2 linked regions of the Homo sapiens genome follow. The protein of the gene in region 1 purifies or fractionates together with the protein of each later gene. This does not show direct contact. Each region holds a gene or a part of one and is shown in the gene's direction. Other genes may lie near its edges.

The links. The genes of interacting proteins can lie anywhere in the genome.
Region 2: the proteins of DLX6 (region 1) and GNB1L purify together in Homo sapiens (affinity purification with mass spectrometry; one large-scale study listed by BioGRID and IntAct). This does not show direct contact.

What each region holds. Positions count from the first base shown.
Region 1 is NC_000007.14:97,008,553-97,011,540, forward strand, and holds the end of DLX6 (homeobox protein DLX-6), read left to right. Parts: intron 1-1,243; coding exon 1,244-1,495; 3' UTR 1,496-2,488; downstream 2,489-2,988.
Region 2 is NC_000022.11:19,799,375-19,802,874, reverse strand, and holds part of GNB1L (guanine nucleotide-binding protein subunit beta-like protein 1), read left to right. Parts: intron 1-658; coding exon 659-874; intron 875-3,500. UniProt on the Homo sapiens protein: Acts as a critical regulator of DNA damage response (DDR) signaling via specifically regulating phosphatidylinositol 3-kinase-related protein kinase (PIKK) family proteins.

The sequences.
Region 1 (2,988 bases):
CTACTAATTTGAAAGCCATAGAAGGCATTTCAGATTTCACAAGAAGGAGCTTAGGTGAGTATATTAGGACCCTGGTCAAAAAGCCAGGCTGCAATCACCTGCAGTTTTTGTTGATTAATTTACCTACATGGAGTAAGTAGGCCTCATCTGATGTAGGTAATCTTCAGCAAGGGGACCTCAGGTTTTATGAGACTGTTGCTGCAGACTGATTGTGTGTTGACTTAAGACAGTTGTTCCTTAAGCTCTTTTTCAATTTAGCCTGTTTTCTCTTTCCATATTGCTATTCATAATATTTGGGGTTTGATATGAAGGGATTCCGGCTATTCAGTGACTTGTATGCGTCTTGAAAAAGTAGATTCTTATGGCTAGGGAATTTTAAAGGTAAAGGAAGCTGCACCATAAAATTTCCTTCTTCAAATAAAGTAGATCTGAAATGTTGGCCTAGATATGCTCCCATCCCAGATTCCCGATTCACGTTTAATTTTCAGAAGCCCTTTGACTTTTAATTACTATACTAACAATCATGTGATGATCCTTGACCACAGTTTGACTAGGCAACATACAAAATAGGGAATGAAGGAGCTGCAGTCCTTAATCCCTGCAAGGTTATGGGGATATATTTATGTCTGGAGAAAGATGCTTCATGTATAATCTATGGCATATGCAATATATGCATAGATATATTCAAGGCATTTAGTTATAAATGTACAGGCTTTAATTCCTTCAGTCATTTGCTCCTTGTACCTTTATAGAGATAACAGCTTTTGGGTATCTCTATGCATGTACACGGAGAAAATGACTGTGTAAAATAGTTATTTTACATAGACTAAATTTACATTACTAAATTTTATGTAAAATGACAAGACTTTCAGAGGAGGTGCATTCAATTGAATGGCTTTGATTTGAAAGGGCTGCTTTTAAAAATCCTTTAGGCTTTGGACCTGGTCATCTCATTCAGCTTTTTCTTATTTATACTGTTGTTTTAAACCTACGCTAGCACGCAATTCTAGAATTACAATAACTTTAGGTATCCAGGCAAGATACCTAGTATGTTGTAGGAAGTGGGACTGTAAGAGGCTAGAAAGAGGTGGAAGGAGGCGGGGACTTGGCTTGTAGGCGTTGGCGGTGGTTGTTTTTTGTTTTTTGTTTTTTTGCTTTTTTAATATTGCTTCTAAATCCCTGAGTGACGTTAGAGGCACTGGTTTGATGTTTATGGGCCTAATGATTGCTGCATTTCTTGCAGGTGAAGATATGGTTTCAGAACAAACGCTCTAAGTTTAAGAAACTGCTGAAGCAGGGCAGTAATCCTCATGAGAGCGACCCCCTCCAGGGCTCGGCGGCCCTGTCGCCACGCTCGCCAGCGCTGCCTCCAGTCTGGGACGTTTCTGCCTCGGCCAAGGGTGTCAGTATGCCCCCCAACAGCTACATGCCTGGCTATTCTCACTGGTACTCCTCTCCACACCAGGACACGATGCAGAGACCACAGATGATGTGAGTTGCCCAAGGGAACACCCTAGGGAAACGTCTGAACAAGGAAAAGAGGATCCGGGACCTGCTTGTATCTGCGAAAAGGAGCCAAAGGAGCAGGCTTAGGAGAGCTCATAAGTGTGGCAAGAAGCCGACTAGGCTCATTCTCTCTCCCTCTCTCTCTCTCTCCCTCTCCTTTCTTTTTACTTCTTCCTTTCCTCCATTCCTTCTTTCTTTCCTTTTCCTTTCTACCTTTCTTTTCTTTTTGCCTTTCACCTTTTTTCTCATTTACCTTCTCTCTTGAGCAACGTCAGTAATTGATCTTGCATCTCAGAGAGAGAGAAAGAGCATGTGTGAGAGAGAAACTGGTTTCTATGCCAGCACTCCTGAAACCCCTTACTGTAAGGATATTTTCTCTTACCCCTTGGGATCCAGGCTCTGAGTCTCTTCTCTTTGGGAGTATCCATCAAAATGACTTTTTTTAAAAACAGATTTTCCCCCAACCAGAAGAATCTGCACAAACTTGGCAGCGTTTTTACTTGTTTAATGAGTTTAAGACATTACATGGTGAAAGAGAAGCATTTTGGACTCCTGCATTTTTATTTACCATTCCCAGACTGACGAGAAAAAGAAAATTCCTCACATAACAGCCCTTCTCTAAAGAAAAAGGAAAAAGTGGCTGTAAGATTAGAACATTGCTACAAAGGGAATGCTGCATGTTTTATCAAAATGCAATGACCAGGAATGATGGTTGATTAAAAAAAAACAAAACAAAAACCACTCTTTCCCCACCCCACCCCCCCAAACCCTGAACTGGAATCAGGAAAGACGGAGGAAACAATCAAAATCACCATTCTATTGCTTTGACACCTTTACTAGGTGAATTGGTGGCATTCACAAAGCTAATAGGGACGTTTATATCAAGAAACATTTCTGTATATATTGTTGAATTTTAGTTGTACATATACTTTGTATGTTTTTGTCTTCTTTCATATATGGAGTAAAAGCCACAAAACGCTGAGTGTCTTGTATATTTCTCTCTCTGTGTGTCTCTGTCCCTCTCTTTCCTCCCTCCTCCCTCACTTCCCTTCCCCCCATTAAATTTTCTATCACCCTTAAAAAAATTCCTATTTCCTAATATGGGAAGTCATATGTATATATATGAACATCAAGTGCCTGCAAAGATGTCAGTTTGCACACTAGCCTTTGTCTTAGGTAGTTTAACATTAACCATGGATGTTCTTTCAACTTTCTTTACATATTACGTTTTTATTGTAATTTCTACACATTTACCTATGTTTTAAACATTAGAATGACCTATCCTCAAGTTAACTTCTAGACATCACAGTAGTTTCTAGTGCTGAAACTGAGTATTCTCCTTTCCCTTTTCCCAGCCAAAATAATACAGCCATATTTGTCTTTGTTTGGATGCAGTTTTTTAAAATATAGGAAAGAAAAAAATAGAGAGTAGAGTGCACAATTATGCCTACTTAATGTTTAAAACCCATTGCCAGCTAGCTA
Region 2 (3,500 bases), on another chromosome or scaffold:
ACGAGGTGTCTGCCCAGGGCTTGGAGCCCTCTGACCCGCGCCCTCATTCATCACAAGAGCTCGGGCGGCTCACGCCAGGCTTCAGGGGCAGGGGCTTCGGCAGCCACTTTGACAAAGCACAGAGAGTTCATTTTTCATGGAGATGGAGCTCACGGTTTCTTCTGGCTGGCGGCTCTAGACAGGTGACCAGCCCCAGTAAGTGGTGGCCACACATCTTAGGCCTGGGGAAAGGAGGCAGGAGGACAGGTCCCTGTGCATGGGAGAAGTGGAGAGGGTCGGCAGCACTCACAGTGGCTGGTGGGTGCCCAGCATCACCCCTTTGGGCAGAACCCAGGGTGGGCACATGCAGGTTGCAGGGCTGGTGAGAAGTGGTACAGCAGTGGGAGGCCTTGGGCTTGGCTCTCTGCCCTCCACCCCTATGTCCTTGGGGTGCCCTAAGGGCAGCCGTGCCAGTCCCATGCTGACAGCATCAGCCATCCAGGGGCTGTGTGGGAGGGCACTGGCGGTGCAGAGCTTCTGAGCTGTGGCAGCCACGTGGAAGACATGGGAAACAGCCCCAGCCAGCAGGAGGGGCAGGAATTTCCAGAGCCCCTTCTCCCCCGAAACTCACTGGAGTCAGGGTCCTTCCAGGAGCTGACTGCTCTGCTGTTCCCCGCAGGCCGACTGCAGCTCCCGCCCACTCCTTCTGGCCGGCTATGAGGATGGATCGGTGGTCCTGTGGGACGTCTCTGAGCAGAAGGTGTGCAGCCGCATCGCCTGCCATGAGGAGCCCGTCATGGACCTTGACTTTGACTCCCAGAAGGCCAGGGGCATCTCAGGCTCCGCGGGGAAGGCGCTGGCTGTCTGGAGCCTGGACTGGCAGCAGGCCCTGCAGGTCAGTGCGCCAGGCCCCGGGTCTCATTTATCCTGCTCTGCACTAACAGTCTGATAGGCTGAAACAATATTTAGGCATGAAGAGGAGTTGTTGCAGATCCCTGGCTAATTAATCACTTGGAGGCGGGTGCAGGGGGGCTGTCCATGGCTGGCGCAGGAAGAAGGGGGCGTGGGCGCTGGCAGACCATTCACATGGTTTGGGTTTCGCCCAGACCTCGGGTTCATGCCGTCACATCTTGTCCATCTAGAGAAAGGCACGCAGAGTCCAGGAATACTCAAACCCCTTTGTGAAAACTCAGAGGAATTTGGTCAGTAAGGAACTGATTAATCAAAAAAAAAAAAAAAAAACCAGTGTGGAAAACTGCGAGGAGCTGCAGCCCCCGTGGTGGTCTGGAGCTGGCCCGAGGGAGGCCATTGCTCACGGGCAGCAGGAAAGCCCAGCAGGAAGGCTGGGAAGCCTCAGGGCCACCTGGCGGTTGCTGAAGATCTTCCCATGGTGTCTCCTGGGCTCTCCTAGCTGGCATGGCTCGAGGGGCACCGTGGTGTCCCTGTCTGGGCCTGTGGCTCCAGGGTGGCCTGGCCTACACGTGGCCCTGTTTGGGATGGGAGGGATCAGGTCAGGCTGGTGGGGGCAAGGGGAGTCTCCTGTCCAGGTCTCACTCTGGTGCAAGTCTCAGGGGCTGCAGAGACCATGGGAGATGAGGTGCTGGGTGTGGCCTGGGTACATCCTGGCTTCTGGGGGGTGGACAAGGAGCCCCCATTCACCAGAAGTCTTGGAAGCCTGAGACCCATAGCCAGCGAGTGGTCAGATTGCCCAGTCTAGTGGGTGAAGGGCCTCCAGGGGGAGCTGCATGTCCCGTGAGGTGACTACTGGCAGAAGCAGCAACAGCTCCCAGCCTCACCAAGGACAGGGCCCGGGGCTGCCCTTCTCTGTAGGGCTGTGGTCCAGGCTGTCTGTACGACAGGAGGCCACAGAGAGGGCATTCCTCGGGCCCCCCAGGCAGGGCAGACTTGCCCGCAGCCCCAGCAAGCCTGCTGCGCCTCACGCTTGCCCAGCCCTGGCCCCTGTGGGGCGGGGAGGGTTCACCTCGGGTCCGTCAGGCCCACCCCTGAGTGGGCACCACCAGAGTCTTTGAAGCACATGGTGGAGCTGCGGAAGGACATGCCCTGGTGAGACTAGGATACACAGAGGGGCAGGGTTCTGTGAGCGGCCCCAGTGCCCTGTGGGCATCACCAACCTGTGCAGGCACATGGTAGACTTGCAGGAGAGCTGTGTCCATCCCTCACCCATCCGTCAGCTGTCCTGGGGATGGGGGCACAAGGCCCTGATGTAAGCGGCAGAGCTTCTCATGTCTCCCCGGGAGGAAGGGTCTCCTAAGGCTTAGCAGGCCTGGGTGGTCGGTGGATGTGTCATCATCATGATGCCCGTTCTGAGCAGCTAGAAGCTGAGCTGCTCTGGGCGCTGGGAGGCAGAGCCACTCTGGGTGCTGGGTCTGCATGTCTGGAAGGGGCGTCTCCCTTGCACTCCCTCCCTCCTCCTCAAGCCTGGCAGGGATCCTGCAGGGCTGCCCCCATGGGGTCCAGTGTTCACTTGGCACTGGCTTGTCCTTCACCAGCCTGACAGCAAAGCGCTGAAGACCCAGACAGCTTCCCTGAGAGCCCCCGGAGGGCTCTTCTCTGCAGTTTCCACCTCTGTGCCCAGGACCCCAGGAAGGGGCCCTCCTGCCGTCCTGGCCCAGATCTGCCTCGTCTCTCCTGGTGTGTTTGGGAAACAGCTGCTGGAACTTAGGACTGTAATTTATGGGGCATGTTCCAGTCCAGAGATGAACTTGACCGGATTGATGAATTGAAAAGTTAAAGCAAAAGGGGGACCAGGTATTAATGAATTGGAAAGTGAGAGCAGAAGGGAGAACCAGGAACAGGGAGTGGTTGGCGTGGCTGTGGCGTGCTGGGCAGGGCATCGGCCCATGGTGCACATCGAAGGAGAGGCGTTTCCCCTGCTGAGCCCTGTGTTGCATGGGCCAGGAGGAGGCCTGGGAGGGGACAGGCGACTCCAGGAACAGGGGACAGGGAGCCGGAGAGGCTGATGCGCCACCCTCTGCCCAATGTCACATCTTAACGTTGATCCTAGAGGCCCTGGAGATTGCAGGTTCTGTAAAGCCCCAGCCTCAGGGAAAGCCTGTGGGGGCGCTTTCGGAGGTGAGCTGCCTGAGAGCGTTCTTGCCACCCGGGAGCAAGCAAGGTGACCGAAGGTCCTCAGCACCCACAGGTGTCCTCACCCACCGCCTGCACTGTGACTCCTTGGCTGAGAGCCACGTGGGCACGGCTGTGTCCCCCTCACACCCTCCTGCCGAAGCCTCTGATGAGCCCAGATCAGTCTCCCCCCGGCGGGTGCTGGGAGTAGAGACGCGAATGAGGTTCCTGGAGCAGAGCATGGGTAATCGGAACCAGATGGTGGCTTCGCCGCACCACGCATTCCTGGCACCTGAGGTCATGCGCTACGAGAGCCACTGGTGGCCAGAGATCCTTCCTGGAAGGCCCAGGTCCAGGCTGGGGCTTGGCCAGGGGCCGCGGTGGTGACGAGGAGGCTGCCCACATCAGGATACCACCTGAGGGTGCCTCGGGGT